Linked DNA regions of Homo sapiens. The protein of the gene in region 2 purifies or fractionates together with the protein of the main gene of each other region. This does not show direct contact. Each region holds a gene or a part of one and is shown on either strand. Other genes may lie near its edges.

Region 1 (3,652 bases), on a different chromosome or scaffold from region 2:
TTGGGGGCAAGCAATTCTTCTGTCTCAGCCTCCTGAGTAGCTGGGATTACAGGTGTGGGCTACCACGCCCAGCTAATTTTTGTATTTTTAGTAGAAATGGGGTTTCACCATGTTGGCCAGGCTGGTCTCAAACTCCTGGCCTCAAGTGATCCTCTCACCTTGACCTCTCAAAGTGCTGGGATTAAGGTGTGGGCCACTGCACCTGACCTATTTTTAAACTTTATCTCTGCTACTGACTTGGAATATCGGGAAAAGGAGGGGAATTGTTTACAATGTCCTAAGAGATCAACAGCATCTACCTGCAAAATTCCCCAGTGTAATCTCTCAATGCATTGGTGAATCTTCCCTCAAGCCAATGATCTCACCTGATTAAAACTATGCTGTGCTCTGACATCTATTTATAGCCCCCATTTTAAAAGGTATAATTGAACTATTAATTAGGAAAAATGCCTATAAAGATCCAACTTCTTTAACTCCTGGCCTCAGGTGATCCATCTGCCTCGGCCTCACAAAGTGCTGGGATTACAGGCGTGAGCCACCGCAGCCAGCTTTCTAATACCATTTCTATCACGACAGTTAAGTGTACAGATATCAAAATTCAACAAGTAAAAGCTCGCTCATCCTTGATTTAATGGGTAGAAAGTTCCATGACGTTCTACTATATCCAAAATTGTCGATGTAACAGGAATTTGACTTCTGAGTCTCCTACTAGTCCAACAGCTTAAATTCACAGTGCTTTGTAATGGGATGACAAAACCGTCTAGATCATTATAAGGAATTGACTGCATTTAACAATGCTAACAATGTTTTTTACAAGGCATTATATGGAGCTGCTATGCCTGGCTTCTTTCCATTAGATATTATGGTTGACTACCATTTAAAAACTGTGATTTGGCTTTTACTAATGAATTCCTTATGTGATTTTGCCACAATAAAAAAAATATAAATGCTGTCATGATCACTGAAGCAAACAATGCAGAACTATTATGTGTCTTGCAGAATATATTATGTCAACAGGAGATAGATCCCATGGTTTTCTAAAACAATTTACTACCATTAAAGTGATAAAAGGTTAATATTACTAGTATACCACTCCCATTAGGGAGCAGGGATTTTAAAGCTGACTTGAATTAGAACCTTCTCATTTATCAAATGATTCATTCAACAGCATAGCAATAAAATGCTATGCTGTAATTTTCACACTCTTTTTCCAGCAAACCATTTTGTTGTTGTTGTTGTTGTTTTTGAGACAGACTCTTACTCTGTCACCCAGGCTGGAGTACAGAGGCACGATCTTGGCTCACTGCAACCTCCACCTTCCAGGCTCAAGCCATTCTCCTGCCTCAGCCTCCTGAGTAGCTGGGATTACAGACGCCCACCACAATGCCCAGCTAATATTTGTAATTTTAGTAGAGATGGGGTTTCACCATGTTGGCCAGGCTGGTCTTGAACTCCTGACCTCAAGTGATCCACCCACCTCAGCCTCCCAAAGTGCCGGGATTACAGGTCTGAGCCACCGTGCCCAGCGCAACAAAACATTTCTTAAGGAAATCATATGCAGAATCCCAATATATATACCACAGACAACAATGACACTGCTCTACATGATACAAGTTAAGGAGCTTAGCCTCCTCCTTGCCCTACATGCCATATAAAGCCCTGTGCAGAATCTAGGGCTCTGTGGAATTCAGCCAGAAAACCAATGAACTGCTAGAAAAAAATGTGGAATCTAAATCACAATTCTGCCCTTTATTAACTGTTTACTTTGGTTAAGTTAATCCTCTGAAGAACTGTTACTTGGCTCAAACTTTTTGTAGAACTCTTTGTAAATCTTTGTAAACGATATATTCTAATACAAAGCTGATGGCAGATGCAAGGCTTTTTGCCAAGTGAGCACAATAAAAATAACACACTTTGTAAAGTGCGTACAATCTGGTAGTACACACATAGCAGCAAACATAATTCTGCTATTCAAAGTTCTATGCCTTCTGTATACCTGGTGCCTTGAGCAAAAAATTGTTAAATGAATGAGAAAATTGGCTCTGCCTGAAGATTAGGAAACTTCACAGAGATGGGGTGACACTGAAAGTGAGCTCTGATGTTGGGCAGAAAAGAGTTTACATAGGCCCAAGGCTGCTATCCTTAGAAAGTTCTGGGCTGGGCACGGCGGCTCACTCCTGTAATCCCAGCACTTTGGGAGCCCGAGGCAGGTGGACCATGAGGTCGGGAGTTCGAGACCAGCCTGACCAAAATGGTGAAACCCCGTCTCTACTTAAAAAAAAAAAAAAAATACAAAAATGAGCTGGGCGTGGTGGCGCATGCCTATAATCCCAGCTACTCAGGAGACTGAGGCAGAAGAATCGCTTGAACCCAGGAGGCGGAGGCTGCAGTGAGCCGAGATCACACCACTGCAGTCCAGCCTGGGCAACAGAGTGAGACTTGGTCTCAAAAAAAAAAAAAACAAAAAAAACAGAAAGGTCTGCTTACAAGGGTGGCCACTGCATAGTGTCGGAGAATTTGACTAGCACACAGTTCCTATACTGGCATGAAACTTTCCCTAAATGATATGGGTAGCTCACTGTGCCTAAACTGTTTGTACAAACAATGTGGTTTATGCTAAACACCTGGCTTTTCTTCTGGGAATCTAGAATTTTGGTACATGCTAGGCAGAGGGTACCCTATATGAAGTCCCAATAAAAACCTTCTGCAATGAGTCTCTAATGAGCTTCCCAGGTAGAAAACACTTAACACATGTTGTTACAACTCATTACTGGAGGAATTAAACTGTCCTGTGTGACTCTACTAGAAGAGGACTCTTAGAAGGTTTCCTCCGGACTTTACTCCATGTACCCTTTCCCTTTGCTGATTTTGCTTTGTATCCTTTCCACTGCAATACATTTTAGCCATGAGTTCAATGAACATATGCAGAGTCCTGGAAGTCATCTCTCGTTAGCCACCAAACCTGGAGGTGGTCCTGCGGATTCCTAACACAAAGGGTATATTCAAAGGTACTACCTAGCTATTTAAATTACAATACTTTTATACAATTTAATTTTCAAGTTCAACTTACTTTCAAAACCCGAGAATTGCCTCCGTTCTGTTAAGACAACAGGCCTTAAAAAGGTAAATGAGGAAAGAAAATTGTGAAGGAATGAAGTGTCTGCCTTAAATATAGTCCTTAACATTAATACTAAAAGAAACCTCTGAAAATGAGGACCACTTTAGGAATGGTGAGAATGGACAGCAAAGCTTTACTGAAAGAAGTGACATAATCAAATGTGGTGGCTACTGTGCATCCTTCCAACAACCACATCCAAAAGCTACAATACTAATAATTCCTATATCAAAAGAAGCCACTGTTTTAAAAATAATTCAACGCTCTCCTTTCCTGTTACTCTTGCATGTTTTCAACTTAAATTTAAAAAATAACAATAATAAAGGGGTAATGAAATATTTACCAATCTGACTGCTTCTTTCATTTTTTCTGAAGCAATTGCCAAGATTTCTGTAGTAGGATTGAAGGTCAGAGAAGTAACACCTGTAACCAAGTTCATTATAGCTTTTATTGGCTTTGGGTTTGTTTCTTGGAGACAAGAATCTTGATTGTATATATTTACCACTCCACAATTAGAACTACAAAGAGAAAAGGATT
Region 2 (3,525 bases):
ATGAGTGAACCTTGAAATGCTCCATTTCCCTTTTGAGTATTGATCTATGTGAGCAATTTCCCACCAACTCCATTCCTTAATTATCTTTTCTGTTGTGACCTCAGAGTTTGAACTTCATATTAAAGCTCATAGAATTTGTGTTAAAATCAAAACTATTGATTTATTCCCACTAAAGTATAATTTTTTACCAGTATTTTTTTGAAATCTGTTTTAGAATAATGAACAGATTGACTTATGTAATTATTATTGTAATTCTGTGTTGCTGTCCTTCTTTTCAAAAACAATAAACTATCTCTAGTGTAGAAGCATGGCCTGGACCTCCGCGTTAATAATTGTAGCTGGATGTTTGAGCAAGTTTGGATAACAACATTCAACTATTTGTCTTTTGGGTCTCAGTTTTTCTTTTTAGCCTCCCTGTGTTCTTCAATGTGAATAATAAAGAAGATAGCACACAGGGAAATACAACCATCTTTAAATATTTGAGTGGCCTGTGTGGAAGAAGGCTTTGTGTGGCCCTAGAACTTGCTCTGTATAGCCCTGTGAATTAGACTTAGGATCAGTAACTGAAAATCAAAGACAGTTTTCTCTTCAATATAGGAAAGAATATGTGAACATGTTGAGCTACCTAAAGAAAGAATAGACTGCCAGGGAAAGTTAGTGAGATCTTGTTATAGGTAGTGGTCAAGCAGTGGATGACCACGAAGTAGTGGGTATACAGCCATGGGTGGAATTCAGCCATTATGCAGACAAAGTAGGAAGCCTGGGCATTCTCTGCCATTCTTGAAATTTTCTGCTTAAGTTTCAGGTTGAAATGTTTGGTTATCAAATGTCTTAAAACATAGCCCTGAATCCCCCCTTTTTAAAATAGAACCTTTATAGCCATATAGAGTTTCATTTCATTAAAGGAAAGGTGTGACAGCAGCCTTGTTAATCGGAGGGTGAAGAAGATGATCAGCTAAAGCTTTGGCATTCAGTATGGCCCAGATTAGCATTTCCAAAAATGTGGCTCTGAAATAGTGGGCATGAGACTCATCTAGGATACTTATTTTAAAATGCAGATTTCTGCATGCCCTCTCTCCCCAACCCCCATCTCCTAATTTTACTAGTGAATTGAATTCCTGGGTGATTTTTATGTACGCTAAAGGTTGAAAACCTCTATTCTGGATATTGTACTGTGTCATAGGAGAGAGCAGAAGCATCCACAGTGAAAGGAAGAAAACGCATTTTAGATTCTGGTATTCCTCTTCTTTCACATTTTTAAATGTTATTAACATCAATACCTACTATTTCTAGTTAAAATTCAGATGGAGAAGAAAAATAATAGCTCCCACGCATTACATTTGTAACTTCAAATGGTAAGCCTCTCAGGAGCTTTCCAGGCCTGTCTTGACATTTTTTACATATATATCTCAGTTTACCTACCTTTTTTCTCAGATTCATTTTCCTTGCTATCTCAAAATGATGATGGTAGTATATACTGAATGCTTTCTTTGTACCAAGTTCTGTGCAAAGCACTTTGCTTGGATTGTTTGATTTAATGGACACAGCTACAAAGGGCAGGTAATGGAATTAGTATCTCCAGTTTAGTTGAGGAAACAGAAGCTTAGAGGGTAAGTAACTTGCTGAGAGTTACACAGTTGGAAGTAGCAGAGATGAAAATTTGTAATCCAGGTCTGTCTTATTAGAGTCAAGAAGACGGGTATGAGAATGATATACAGCTTGGTATGTGTACATTTTAAGTTCAGTTCAAGGTTTGAAATGTTGATCAGGCTTTCCCAACTATTTAGTGAAAATTTTAATAACATAAAGTCTTACTTACATTTTGATTTAAGTCAGGCCTAGGAAGTTATTCTAAAAGCCTCCCTTTTTTCATTATGTATTTATGGGCCATCGTGCTTCATTTGAACATCAGAGGTTAAAAGTGTAGACCAAATAATGGCTGGCCAACTTTAAATGAGATTGGAACTCACCTTGAATATATGAAATAGTACTAGTGTTGAAGATAATTAGGATTCTTTTTAAAATCTGCATGTTAACCATCATCCTATAGAGCAGGTTTTAAAAAGCAGGTAGCTGGAGTGGAGGATCATTATTGCTAAGTGATGATCTTAGGCCTTACTTCAGTTTGTAGTTTTTGAAGAGAGGGTAGTTTGAGGTGTCAGAACTAAAACATAACAACTATAGAAACAGTTCTAGAAGCTAAATATACCAGCTGCTTCTAATTTTATACACAGAGTAACAAAGGGATTTACCATGAAACTCAGTATTTGTATTTGCCTTAGTGGACATGGGTGTGTGTTCTATGTCTGAAATATTTCATGATAAAATTTATTAAATTTATGAGTGAAAAAATGTTATAAAGACTTGATTAGGAAACAGTGATTATTGATAATGCCAAGAAAGTGATTATTTTAACCTAATCTTTTTAAGAAAGTTCTTTTCTAATGGACGAATACAGGGTGAGAATAAATGTTTAAAATCAAGTTTATTTCTTGCATTTCTACATCATAGTAGCCTGTTCAGTGCAGTAATTTTATTAGGCAATAGACAAGTAATTAGATTTAGAAATGAATATCTCTTAATCTAAACTTTTACCTAATATAGAAAAGAGTATTCTTTTAAAAAAAATTTAATCCTTTCTCCTCTAAAGGTGGCCTCTGATATTAGCCAATTACATATTTTTTCTTATATCATCTCTTAATATGGATAAATGTGTCAAGCAAATGGCTATATAACTGCAAAAAATAATTTCTAAATTTTAAATGTTATTTCTGATAATATTAACCTAATTTTGTGAAGGTACTCTGAGTTAAGTTGAATCTGTTAAAGAAGTCATAAAAAAGCAATCAATTTTTAAAATGGTTTTAAATCTGGATAGTGATTTTAATAGGTCGATATATGTGTAACTAATCATCTTTTGCTTTTCACATAGCATTAAAACTTCCTTTTGGCAAAACAACAGTGATGCATTTGGTGGCCAGAGAGACATTACCAGAGCCAAACTCTCAAGGTAAGCCATGCACTGGAAAAGTATCTCAGTTGAGGCACAAAGACAGGCATTCAAAAATGCTAGGTTTTTCTTGGATATGCTGAGGGAAGGGAAGTTTGCATAGTTTATGAATAGAGATTGTCAAGCAAATAACCAGACATTTTTGAAACATGCTAAAATTAAAAGAACATTTATTACAGCTTCTTAATTTTGAAAAATGCAAACATTTTTAAAAACTCAAAACTACTACTTCCTACACTTGATTGCCTAGCCCATTTTCCCCTCCAGTTCTAGAATTTTTATAAACGAGGCTCTTCTTCGTTTTCCCTAGGTCAGAGGAATCGTGAGAAGACTGGAGAGAGTAATTGTTGTGTAATCCTGTAAACACTGTCTGCCTAGTGTGATGTGATATAGTCTTTGTCTTTCATGCTGCTGGGACAGAAAAGACCCGACATTGCTTCAGAAACCGTTCAGAACAGTCTGCCTGTAAACACATGGAACTGAATTACCACATGAACACTGTCATCTTTTCTCAT

Evidence for each region. The genes of interacting proteins can lie anywhere in the genome.
Region 1: the proteins of UBL3 (region 2) and UTP18 purify together in Homo sapiens (affinity purification with western blotting, with the first as the bait; one large-scale study listed by BioGRID). This does not show direct contact.

The regions. Positions count from the first base shown.
Region 1 is NC_000017.11:51,288,010-51,291,661, reverse strand, and holds part of UTP18 (U3 small nucleolar RNA-associated protein 18 homolog), read right to left. Parts: intron 3,634-3,652; coding exon 3,459-3,633; intron 3,115-3,458; coding exon of another isoform or gene 3,073-3,114; exon of another isoform or gene 2,470-3,072; intron 1-2,469. UniProt on the Homo sapiens protein: Part of the small subunit (SSU) processome, first precursor of the small eukaryotic ribosomal subunit.
Region 2 is NC_000013.11:29,767,103-29,770,627, reverse strand, and holds part of UBL3 (ubiquitin-like protein 3), read left to right. Parts: intron 1-2,932; coding exon 2,933-3,010; intron 3,011-3,320; coding exon 3,321-3,373; 3' UTR 3,374-3,525.